2 separate regions of the Homo sapiens genome follow, and region 1 is linked to region 2. Evidence: fine-mapped expression QTL. A gene starts in region 2. The other region holds a variant in brackets. All regions are shown on one strand. Distances are from middle to middle. Region 1 overlaps RIMKLA (ribosomal modification protein rimK like family member A). Region 2 holds the start of ZMYND12 (zinc finger MYND-type containing 12).

Region 1 (2,912 bases), 31 kb after region 2:
TATTTGTTCTGCATGTTCTATTTTTTCCTTTTCTTTCTTTTGGATTGATTACATAATTTTCTCCTTCCATTTCTTCCACTCTGCGAGCTTGTAGTTTATATTCTGTGTTTCTGTTCTTTTAGTGATTGCCCCAGAAATCCAAGCATTTGTTCCTTACTTATCAAAATTTAAAGTTATTTGGGAAACTCTCATCCCTGACAATAGAAGGTCTTTAGAATCTTTTAACTATATTTACCTCCCACTAACTTATACCTTCTTATTATTTCAAATATATCTTAAACTCATGTCATAATTATTTTGTAAAGTCATCATGTTCCTTCTTTTCACATCTTCCATCTTGGCTCACATTACTGATAAATATTTCAGTATTTCCTATAGTGAGGGCCTAAAGATGGCAAATTCTCAGATTTTCTTTCTTTCATTAATTCAAAAATGTTCTTATTTTGCCCTAATTTTTTTTACTCTTCAATGAAAATATATTTCATTTTTATATATGATTTATTGATGCAGGAAATCATCTCAGTTCTGAACAGCTCTACAAAATGTGGTTTACTTGGCCGGACGCAGTGGCTCACGCCTGTAATCCCAGCACTTTGGGAGGCTGAGGCGGGTGGATCATGAGGTCAGGAGATCAAGACCATCCTGGCTAACACAGTGAAACCCTGTTTCTACTAAAAATACAAAAAAATTAGCCAGGCGTGGTGGTGGGTGCCTGTAGTCCCAGCTACTCGGGAGGCTGAGCCAGGAGAATGGCGTGAACCTGGGAGGCGGAGCTTGCAGTGAGCGGAGATCATGCCACTGCATTCTCCAGCCTGGGCGACAGAGCAAGACTCCATCTCAAAAAAAAAAAAAAAAAAAAAATGTGGTTTACTTGACCCTGAAGGGTATAAGTAGGTTGAAATGAGCCAGGATTTCTGGGTTCCCTATAGAGTGTCTCTTATCTTCCCACCTGGTGATCACATCTTTCCTAAGCGTCTTCAGCAGAATTCATAAGGGTGGAGCTGAAGGATCATCTCTGAAAGGCCTGATTAAAATTTTCCACTAGCAAGCACATATGCACTGTTACAAATATATCATATCGTCTATGAATCTTTATTTAACAAAAATTCACTCTGAGTTGCTGCTCTACGCTCTCACTATATAACATTTTATCATTGCGCTCCATGGCTTTCTGCTGTGCCACAGGGCCTCAGATGACCAAGATTGGAACCAAACTGCTAGCACCAGGCCTTGCCATGTCCCATTACAGATACACATTGTACAAATGAGGTGTCTCTGTTCTCATGATGACTCTGTGAGGTACAACATTTCTCAAACACAATAGGTCACACAAAACAAACAATTGGCAAAGAAAATGCTTCAGAAAAGATGGTGAAGCATTATTTGGATGACGGAACCATGCAATCATTTTGCCAAACACAAAACATATGTCTTTCCTAATATTCATCAAGATCAGTGCAATGTGATAAATATTTTATATTATGTACATAC[A/G]TACACACACACTTTTAATAGCTAATATTTAAATAAGCAGTAGCAGGTTTTAAAAACATACGAACAAGGTTAGTATTGGGAGCAAGATGTAAAACCAGAATTATATATTATAAGCATTATCCCTTGCAGACCTTTTTCAGGATTGTGTATCTCCTGGAACATCTTAATGAACATGGCAAAAAAGAAAAAGAAAAGTTTTCAGTGAAAAAAGGTGGTTCATGGTTTAAAAGTCAAGTTTTACCACAAGAAACCAAGTTGGAGGTAAGGGTTGAGGAAGGTAGCAGCCAAAAATGACCACTGTAGTTCTGTTTTATTTTGTGTGTGTGTGGTTTCAGCAAGTGGTTGGCATTGTGCACTCAACTGAGGAGGCCCTGAAAGAGGGGAGGTTTGTTGGGGAGAGATAAAAACATGAATTCAGCTTGAAACATGGTGAATTTGAGACGCTTATCAGACATTTGAAGAGAGATGAAGGGTGGGCAACTGGATATGCCATCTGACCTTAAGAAAAGAAGCCTGGGCAGAGCACGGTGGCTCACACCTGTAATTCCAGCACTATGGGAGTCCGAGGCAGGTGGATCACCTGAGGTCAGGAGTTCGAGACCACCCTGGCCAACACAGTGAAACCCCGTCTCTACTATAAATACAAAAACATCAGCTGGGCGTGGTGGTGGGCGCCTGTAGTCCCAGCTACTTGGGAGGATGAGGCAGGAGAATTGCTTGAACCTTGGTGGTGGAGGCTGCAGTGAGCTGAGATTATGCCACTGCACTCCAGCCTGGGCAACAGAGTGAGACTCTGTCTCAAAACAAAACAAAACAAAAAAAGAAAAGAAAAGAAGCCTGGGTTCAGAGATAAATTTGAAAGTATCATGTACGTTGTAATTAATACCAAGCAAATGGAGATCATGTAGGGATGAAACCCGCAGCTAGGGAATAGCAGAAAGCCTAAGGAAATGCCGGAGGAAACAACATTTAATGGAGAGGAGGTGAACCCAGCACAGGAGGCTGATGTAATTTCAGACTTACTCAGCCTACTCATGCAAAGAATTCCTATAATACCTTTCACCCAGATCTCCCAAATGTTAACATCTTACCACATTTGCTTTATTTTCTCTCTCTAGAAACCCATTATTTTCTGAGCCATTTGAAAGTAAATTGCAAACATGATGTACCTCTATCCCTCGATATTTAATGTGTATTTTCTAAAAACAAGGACACATTCTTACGTATTCTTATTAGAACAATCACCAAAATGAGGAAATTGACATTGATATGATACTATCAGGCAATACAGTACAGACCAGTTGTCTTAATAATGTCCTTTAGAGCAGAAGAAAATCCCTGGGCAGGCAGTGTGCTCAGCTGCCACTTCTCTTTAGTCAGAGGAGTGCCTTTAGATGTGACACAAGTGCTGCCACTCCAAG
Region 2 (2,912 bases):
CTTTTAAAACCCAGTTCAATTCATCTCCTCCAAGAAGCTTCATCGACTCCCCCAGGATTCACTCGCCCCATGATCTGACTGCACTTTGTACATACCTCCACTAGAGCATTTATCACTCTGTATTGTAATTATGTCTGTGTCCAGCTCCCTCACTAGATTGTGAGGTCCATGAGGGAGGGCGGTGTCTTATTCATCTCTGTATCCCCTGTGCCTAGCGAATACAGATGCAGAAAGGCCATCTCCAGATCAAGAGGAAATTAACCCAAGATTGGTTATATGGGATTAGATCTCTGGAAGAGAAGCGCCCATCACCTGCAGTGGGCCCCCAGATGACTGGATCTTGTGTTCAGGCATTTCAGAGACAGGAACATAGAAATCTGACACAGCCGCAGCCAGGTAAAACATCGCAGAAGGGCCTGCAAAGAGAAACACAAGGTGTTAACAAATCGGCGAGGTACGATATAGGATCAGCTCCTTCTCAACTCGGGTTCCCCAGCTGAGATCCGTGGGTAAGCAGGAGGTAAGGGGATAAGTGGCTGGAAAGAAAGGCTGTGCTTCCAGGCAAAAGGGGTACTCCTAGGGCACGCACCTAGCGGATTGAGTGCCTGGGCCGCAGCCTGCAACAGATGCAAATAGTCCGCCAAAGTGGTGAACTCTACTGCCAGGAAGGTGCCTGCAGCCGCAGCCTCCTGGTAGCTCCTCAGAGCCTCAGCAAAACCCGGAAGTGCATTCTCCTCGGCCTCCAGGCTCAGCAAGCCCGAAAGGGCTGGGCCCGAAGGCCGCAGAGCGGACAGCCAAGTCTGGGGTGGGAAGCGGTGGGCATAGGGGAAGGCAGAGCGAGCGCGATACAAGAACAGGACCCCGTAGCCGGCGGCTAGGAAGGCCTCGGCCGAGGTTGCACCGCGCCGCCCGCTGCTGAAGTTGTCCAGGAAGCGCACCGGCCGCGCTTCCAGTGGGACCTTGGTGCCGCCTGACGTAACCAACACCACCCGCCGGCCCTGCGCGCCCAGCCTGGCCGCGAAGCGAGCCATAACCTCAGCCCAGCGCGCAGCACCGGGAGGCTGGGGGAACTCGGCTACCGGATCCATTTCCGCCATCTGCAGCGCAGCGGCCGGCGCCTGCGCACGTTTCGCGGCCGCCGCGCCACGCCCCTTCTCGCCTACCTGGTGTACGCGCCGCGCCGTACTGAGTGGGCGGTTCACTACCCTTCTTTTGACACTAGGTCCCGATCTCGCCAAGTCTGGAAATGCGTAGTTGTTCTGCCCCAGAGCCCAGCGAAAGTGACACTGCAACGAGGGGGATCCCCGGCTGGGTGGGCATCTGGTAGGGTCACGTTCCCTCACGTTCGTTTCCTAGCCTGGGTGAAGAACTGGCCATGTTTGACCCTTACCGGCCACTGTACGGGCCTTTCTGGACTTGGACTCCTTGGGAGTCGTTTCTCGGCCATTTGACCCGTGGGACTTGTGGGTTTTGTGCTGCTTTTTCTTTCTTTCTTCCCCTTTTCCAACTTCAGCAATACACCCAGATGTTAGTCGAGTCACGTCCCGCCGCCCTCTGCCCTTGAAATGCTGGCAAGTACGCAGCCCCGCGATCGTCACGTGACGCCGGGGTTCAGCGTATCCTTGCTGGGCAACCGTCTTAGAGACCAGCACTGCTGGCTGCACCATGAATGTGATCTACCCACTGGCAGTCCCCAAGGGGCGCAGACTCTGCTGTGAGGTGTGCGAAGCCCCAGCCGAGCGGGTGTGCGCGGCCTGCACAGTCACTTATTACTGGTAGGCCCTGAAACGTGGCACCTGGGCGCTATAACTCCCTCCCTCTCTCCCTTTCCCGGGTCTGGCTTGGGTACCTTGCGTTAGCCGTTGCCCCTGACTCTGCAAGGGACACCTCAAAACGGCTTTAAGACAGGCCCCTAAGACTCCCGTGGCCTCGTCTGTCTCATCTCCCACTTATTCGTCACTCATGTTTTCTGAAGGCGTACTCTGTGTTATGCACTATTTTAGGTGCTAAAGTTACTGGGGCAGCTCGGTAGATCAGTTCCTTCAAAGATCTAACATTCCAATGTGGGAGACAAATCAGTAAAGAAACAGGCCGGGCGCGGTGGCTCACGCCTGTAATCCCAGCACTTCGGGAGGCCGAGGCGGGCGGATCGCCTGAGGTCAGGAGTTCGAGACCAGCCTGGCCAACATGGTGAAACCCTGTCTCTACTAAAAAATACAAAAATTAGGCGGGAGTGGTGCTGGGCGCCTGTAATCCCAGCTACTCGGGAGGCTGAAGCAGAAGAATCGCTTGAACCCGGGAGGCGGAGCTCGCAGTGAGCGGAGATCGCGCCACTGCACTCCAGCTTGGGCAACGAGAGTGAGACGATAGTGAATGGGGCAGTATGTGGAAAGCTTTCCCTGTGGAAGAAACATTTGAGCTGCATTTTGAGAGGGCAGTCAGAACCTGCTGTGTACAGGAGTAGTGAAGAAGGGTAGGGCATTCCCGGCATCCGGGACTGCTAGGGCAAATGGCAAAAGAACAGAGTTTGCTAAGGGCCGAGTGGAGAACGTAGTAGTGGAGGGAGCAGTCAGTGATTTTCAAACTGCAGGCCAGGGCCCTTTAGCAGTTTATGAATAAGTCACAATCACCATTTAGAGAAAACAACAACAACAAAAAAGAGCACAGAATGAGTAGAAAGTATCAGGTTAATCCTACCTGAATTGTTTCTTAAAACTTTTGTCTTAGTGTTTTATGTGGACATGTGTGTGTGTACAGGAAAAATGTATTTCTTACTATAGGTTGAGTCAAAATTAGCCGGATGTGGTGGCGTGCACCTGTAATCCTAGCTACTCGGGAGGCTGAAGCAGGAGAATCGTTTGAACCCGGGAGGCGGAGGTTGCAGTGAGCCGAGATCGCTCCATTGCACTCCA

What was found. PIP is the estimated chance that this variant, and not a neighbour inherited with it, causes the effect.
Region 1: its variant is the best candidate, but not a certain one, in a credible set for the expression of ZMYND12 in whole blood (TOPMed, PIP 0.58).

What each region holds. Positions count from the first base shown.
Region 1 is chr1:42,423,978-42,426,889 of GRCh38, reverse strand. RIMKLA (ribosomal modification protein rimK like family member A) reads right to left here. Exons shown (of 5, transcript NM_173642.4): 5 at 2,658-2,912. Among named protein-coding and RNA genes, the nearest start is that of ZMYND12, 31 kb to the left of the region's middle. The variant A/G (reference allele first, on the strand shown) is at 1,492.
Region 2 is chr1:42,454,751-42,457,662 of GRCh38, reverse strand. ZMYND12 (zinc finger MYND-type containing 12) reads left to right here and starts at 1,641. Exons shown (of 8, transcript NM_032257.5): 1 at 1,641-1,775. The coding sequence starts at 1,666. It overlaps PPCS (phosphopantothenoylcysteine synthetase), which reads right to left and starts at 1,120. Exons shown (of 3, transcript NM_024664.4): 1 at 590-1,120; 2 at 313-416. The coding sequence starts at 1,097. It also overlaps a transcript of CCDC30 not described here. RefSeq lists enhancers at 770-889, 980-1,049, 1,290-1,519.